2 linked regions of the Homo sapiens genome follow. The protein of the gene in region 1 purifies or fractionates together with the protein of each later gene. This does not show direct contact. Each region holds a gene or a part of one and is shown in the gene's direction. Other genes may lie near its edges.

What was found.
Region 2: the proteins of RCVRN (region 1) and GRK5 purify together in Homo sapiens (affinity purification with western blotting, with the first as the bait; one study listed by BioGRID). This does not show direct contact.

Annotation. Positions count from the first base shown.
Region 1 is NC_000017.11:9,895,581-9,899,131, reverse strand, and holds the end of RCVRN (recoverin), read left to right. Parts: intron 1-927; coding exon 928-1,037; 3' UTR 1,038-2,812; downstream 2,813-3,551. UniProt on the Homo sapiens protein: Acts as a calcium sensor and regulates phototransduction of cone and rod photoreceptor cells. Modulates light sensitivity of cone photoreceptor in dark and dim conditions.
Region 2 is NC_000010.11:119,457,803-119,460,465, forward strand, and holds the end of GRK5 (G protein-coupled receptor kinase 5), read left to right. Parts: 3' UTR 1-1,943; downstream 1,944-2,663. UniProt on the Homo sapiens protein: Serine/threonine kinase that phosphorylates preferentially the activated forms of a variety of G-protein-coupled receptors (GPCRs).

The DNA of each region.
Region 1 (3,551 bases):
TCTGTCTCATGCTAGAGGTATTTCTGCGTGTGACTGCCTTCCCCGCCAGGTCAACAGTTTCCCAGGGAGGGACTTCATCTCACTCTCTTCTATTGTACACCCCGCCTCCGCTCCCTGTGGTGGCCTTGGCTCCAAGCACAGTGGCATCTGGGCTCAGGACCATGCATTTAACTGGACTGATCTGAATACAGTTAGCCACCTGATTAAAAACACCGGAAAACCAGGTGTGGGCGCAACAAGGCTGTCTCTCAGTCCTGATCCCAAATAAGGAGGCAGATGAGACTGGGGGACGCAGGGATGGATGCATAGGAAGGGATCATGGCGGAGTTGTCAGCCAGGAATCATGGGGCTGCCTGTGTGCTGCAGGTGCCAAAGAGACCTCTCTGCAAGCCACACTCCCCCTGGCATGATCTCATTGGGCCCTTCACTTCTCACTCCTATTTCTGGAGGGATGTTGTTCCCTGCTTCTCAGCTGAGACTCTGGGCCTGACATCCAGATTGTTTTGCTATGCTCAGACCCCCAGAAGCTCCTCCTGAACTTGATCCTTGAAACTTGAGCTACTATAGAAAATAGAATAACAATTAATAGTTATTAATTATTGAAGTATTTAATAACCAGCAAGGCAGGGGCACCGGCCAATCGGAAGAGACACATAGCACAAGACTGGCATCTTGGGGGCCCCCCCAGTGCCAGTCATTCACCGCTCTTTGCTGGTCTGCAGGGAGCTCCAAGGGTCATGGGAAAGGAGGTGGGTATCTGGACTGGGGTGGGGGAATATTGAATACTCAGGGCCACTGAGTATTCAATATTCTTATAATAGATACATTCACACTGGGGATACTGGCTAGATGTCAGCCTCATCGCAGCTCACTTGGCTATCAATCCTGACTGTTTTATGTACGTATATATTTTTTCCCAATGCACAGATAAACTTACAGAGAAAGAATTCATTGAGGGGACACTGGCCAATAAGGAAATTCTGCGACTGATCCAGTTTGAGCCTCAAAAAGTGAAGGAAAAGATGAAGAACGCCTGATGCCAACTGTTCAGCTGTCCTCCCTCCACCTACCACTCACATGACACCCGTGAGCGCCTGTGCACACACACACACATGCACACACACGCGCGCGCACACACACACACACACATCCACCCCAGGGCCAAGAGAAAGGCCTGCACACAAGCCCACAGCACAGCTCCCTGCCAAACTGAAGCATCTGTAGTGACCCACTGGTTCCTTCTTCCTGGGTCTTCAGCATTCCCTCCCATCATGCCCGGTCCCACCCCTCCCTCTGTCCACCAGCCCATGGCCCTGTGCTAATCCCAGGATTAGGCCATAGGAGTCCTAAGTGTCACCCCGCTGTAAGCTCCTTTGTGGAGTGCTGGGTAAGCAGTTTCCAATAAACGCAAGCTGAGCTGGGCACGTGGCTGCTGGTCATCCTTCAACTGGAAAAGGAAATGATTTCTATCAGTCACACCTCAAAGACAAGGCTGTGTTGCGATGGCAGCCCTAGGCTGGGCTGCTTTGGTGCGGAATGAGTCTAATGCGGTCCTGCTGTCATGGAGCTCATGGTCCAGAGGGGACAATGAACCTGGAAGGAGCCATGACCAGTGGCCCAGGTTACCATGGAAACGTGCAGAGCACCAGGGGAGGACACAGTGGAAGGGGCTGACTTGTCAGGGGGGATCAGGGACCACATCCCTGACGAAGGGAGATTTAAATTCAGAACCACTGCACACGAGGCGGGGGACGGGGTCGGGGTGGGGAAGTCTCAAACAGAAGGCGGCCAACACAGAGCCGCTGAGGCATGAATGACCATCTCGAGTTCCAGGAGAAGGTCGGGGTGGCTGGAGGGTAGAAGGAGGAGGGAGAGCAAAGTGTGAGCTGAATCTAAAAGGTAGGCGGGGGCTGGACCACGCAAAGCCCTCCCTGCAGCCTGTGGTAAGCACTTGGGGGCTCACCATGGGGACAGCGGTGCCACTGTGGAGTTGGAAGTAGGAGGGGTTTATGTTTGTAAGAGAAGTCCCCAGCAGGCTAAAATAAGTCAGAGAGGAGCAACTGGGGGCTCCCTGGAGTCAGGGAGCCCGATGAATAAGCTTTTGCAGCCACTCAGATGGCCTGGGCCAGGGGAAAGGCAATGGGATGGAGAGGACCAGATCCAGTGAGGACACATTTAGGAGGTAGCATCCACCTGGCTGGCTGAGGGGGCAGGAGGAGAGAGGGCAGGAATGGCAGCCAGGCCTGTAGCTTGGGCAGTGGGTGAATAGCAATGCCATCTATGGAGATGAGAAATACAGAGAGTCTTTGGGGTTTCAGGGAACAATGATGAATTCAGCTTCAATATAGTATGAGGTGAAGGCAGAGCCATAGATGGCCCTAAAGCCCCTTGTTTTAGAGACAAGGAAAAGGAGTCCCAATGACAGGAAGCAGCTTGCCCAAGGGCAGCCAGCTGATGAGCAGAGGTCAGGCAAGGGCTACCCACCGGCCCCCAACTGCCTCCTCAAAGCTCCAGGGCCTGGGATACCCAGGAACTCCATCAGTGCATTCTCCAAGATCCCTGGATTTGTTGCTTTGAAGGCCCATTTATTCTCCAGCCTCAAGTTCCAAGATGAGGTCAGAAAAATGCATGGATACCCTGGATTCTTGACTGACCTGTCTGCAACCTCTTGAGGCTGAGGAGTCTCTAGTTGCTGGTATTGTGGTGATGCCTCCAGACCCCACTTTAGCCACAGAGATGACACAATCACCACTGCCAAAGAGCACTCCTCTGTGTGGAGAGCAAACGTGAGAATAAACACTTATGAACCGTGCACCATGCTAGACTCTGCCATCATTATTTCATTGATGGAGATGTTATTATCTGCACAATACAGATGAGGATACTGAGGGCAGGAAGTGTGAGTAGGAGTTGGTACTTAAACTGGAGTCCCTTTGATTACACCAGATTTCTCCAATAGTTTTGACCTGGACACAGCAGGATAGAGAACTCTAGGATTGCACAATGTCAGAGATGGAAAGGGGAAGGAGGCTACAAGGCATGAGTCCAGAGGTTCTGGGAGGAGAAGGATTATTACTAGAATCATCTACCCAAGGCATTCTCCCATGTAGACATAGTGGGCTATATAGAAGCCAGTTCAGTGGGAGATAAAAGACTCTGTGGGTCCAGTCCAGAGTGTTCTAGGAATATAACCAAAGGGCTCAATGCTCTTTCCACCACACTCCATGAATGAATCTGGTTGCTTCGAGGATGAGGCTGGGGGCTTTTCACTTCTCTCTGAGGTCAGTCTATCATTGTCACTTGAGTCTAAAAGGACAGACACTGCATAATTAGGTCCTTGCTGGTTTGTGGTTCAATGGGAGAGCCAAAGAGTGAAAACCTAATTAGTGCCTCTTTTTTTAGCTTAGGGTGGAAGGACCACTTGGGCTGAGATTCTCTACAGCTGTATGACACTTTGTGGAAAATAAAGCATGAAGTTCAACTTGGCCACAGGGAAGAGGAGGTGGAGATAGTGATGAGCTATGTCATCAAGACTCTTCCAGATGCAAAAG
Region 2 (2,663 bases), on another chromosome or scaffold:
CAGCCTCCGAGGTAGCTGGGACCATAGGCGTGCACCACCATACTCAGCTAATTTTTAAAATTTTTTGTAGAGATGGGGGGGGGGTCTCCCCATGTTGCCCAGGCTGGCCTCGAATTCCTGAGCCCAAGCTATCCTCCTGCCTCAGCCTCCCAAAGTGCTGAGGTTATAGGTGTGAGCCACTGTCCCTGGCCTATACGGTCATTTTTTAAAAGATATTTTAAAATTAAAAGCAAACAACACTGTCCACCCATCTACCTGTCCAGGATAAGGCATATTTGGACGGTGAACGGATTTACTCTCGTTCATGCATTTGAGCGCTTCACAGAAGAGTCTTTCTTGCTCCAGGCATGACATTTTTTTTCACCAGACGTTCACTGACTTCGTGACTTTGAGGTGAGACATGGGATCTCTCAGAAGCGTCTCTGCATCTGCATTTCAGGAGATGAGCTGCTGTCCCTGGTGGACAGAGGCGGTCTCTGCCATGGTCACCATGATGCCCTACAAGTGTTTATTGAGTCCCCTGGGGGGCACCCAGAATACCACCCAAAATAGCAAGAAGACCCGGTCCCCGCCTTGCGGACGATGCACTCACATGCCACAGCAACCCATTCTCGCCTCTTCCTTGGCCGGGAACCCGGGGCTCTAGGGCTGCTCGCTGCTGCTGTGGCCTGCGCAGCCACGGGAGGCTTCCTGAAAGGCATTGCTCGGAGGGGCGGGGGCGGGGAGGCCTAGCCTGCCCCACAGACACAGCTGTGAGGCCTGGGTCATACACATACCAGCAAGCAGCTGCCGAGACAAATGGTGGTGGGAAGTCCTGGGAACACACACAGCCTTTGCATTGACAGCACAAGTAGGATCAGAGCCCAGGTGAGCCCCTGAGGATACCGAGGCCTTCCCTCCCTGAGGCCCGCAAGTCTCCATGCGTCTCCCGGGAGCCTGGCCCCGCTGCAGAAATCCCTTCTCTTCCTCCACACCCTGTCCTTTCCCCAAAGGCTCGTGTTATCAGTTCCAGCTACCCATCGACTTTCCCACCGAGCCGCTGCCCTCAAAACGGAGGGGGCACCGCAGCCTCCTTGAGCCTGGCATCCCAGGCCTTGCCAAAGGGGACGGTGGCTTCCTGGATAATTGGAAATCTCTGAGAAGAAGAGGAAACACCTGAGTGACACTCAGCTGTCCTCTGGGGTCCCCTGGTGTGCATGCACGTCCTCCTGAATACCTGTACTTCCAAGAGGTGGTCTCCTGTTTTCATAACCCAACACTCTGAGATAGGATCTTCCAACTTTTTAGCCCCGGCTGTGGAAAGATAGTGAGTATGAAGTCTTTGTGCATTTGGAAGTGACATCGCTGTGTGGATTATGAATACAGAGAGCTGCCATCTTCCTGATCACAATAGACCACGATTGCAAAGCCTCCTCTCCCAGAGACCCCTTCTGCGCCTGCCCTCCCCACCCACCACCCAGCTGTTGAAGCTCAGCGTGTGCAAGTCAGACCCTGCACAGGCCGGGGGTGTCTCACCTGGCCTAAACGTAAAGGCTTGTGCCGGAGACAGTGATTGAAAACATTTGAAAAGCCAGCTCTCCCTGGCAGAGAAAGACACTTCCCCCCCAAAGTGGAATTTAGATGTCTTTCCCTAGTCCATCAAGAAGTCATTTTTGTAACAGTCCCTAAGCGAGTGTTCTCAATTAGAAGAGTTTAGTGGCTTTTGGTGTTGTTAAAATAATAAGAATCCTTCTAGCATCCAAAGCTTTCTAATTTTTTTCAGGGAGATTTGGACATTAATGAATGGAAACTTCCACAGTGGCGGTCACTCCTGAAGGCAGCGGCTTCTGTTCTCCCGCTGCTGTAACTCTGTGTGTTCCGTCTATCGCGTCACAGTGCCGCTGGATCTAGATGGAGCCACTGTTGTTGTTTTTAAAAGAGAAATAAATTCCTTAATGGAAGTAGCATGGCATCGGCATCTCTCTCCTGCTGCTGAGCTCTTGTTCTGTTTCTTCTGCATACGACAGCTGTCCCCAAGATGCCTGTGGCCTTTGGGCTAACCCTTTCCTAAGGTTGACAGTGGAACCCACCCAAACCCGGCCCCCACACTGACCACCCCCTGAACTGCCCACAGATGGCCCAGCTCCAGTGGGCGGGGCCCAAGAAAACCTGAATTCTTACCAGGCCGCCGGCTTCTGATCTCAAACCCAGCAGATGGTTCTAGAAGTGCTCTGGCCACTTGGCACCAAGGAGGAGCTGGGTGACAAGGGCTCGAGCCAGTGCCAGCACCATGACACCAAACGGCGCATTTGCAGGTCCCACCTGCCCGGTCTTATACAGAAGAGGCGGGCTCTGCAGAGGGAGCCTTTCTGGCTGTCCAGGCTTCGCCATGCCAGGCACATGCTGGAACGTGGGGTAGCCAGTGAGGCACAGCGGCCCTTGCACCTCAGAACTGGGATTCCCGATCTGGGACCCAAGACCTCTTCTGTCTCCCTCGACCTGCTTGCCTTAGCTGTTAGAATGAGCAGGGCTTACTCTGAGATGTTTGTTTTAAAAATAAAGGTAAAAATAAATTTTAAAAATAAATAAATAAATAGAATGAGCAGGGCTGGGACTCAGCCAACACCCTATTGATGATATATGACCTTAAACAGGCCACTCTGAGCCTCGGTGTCTTCATCTGT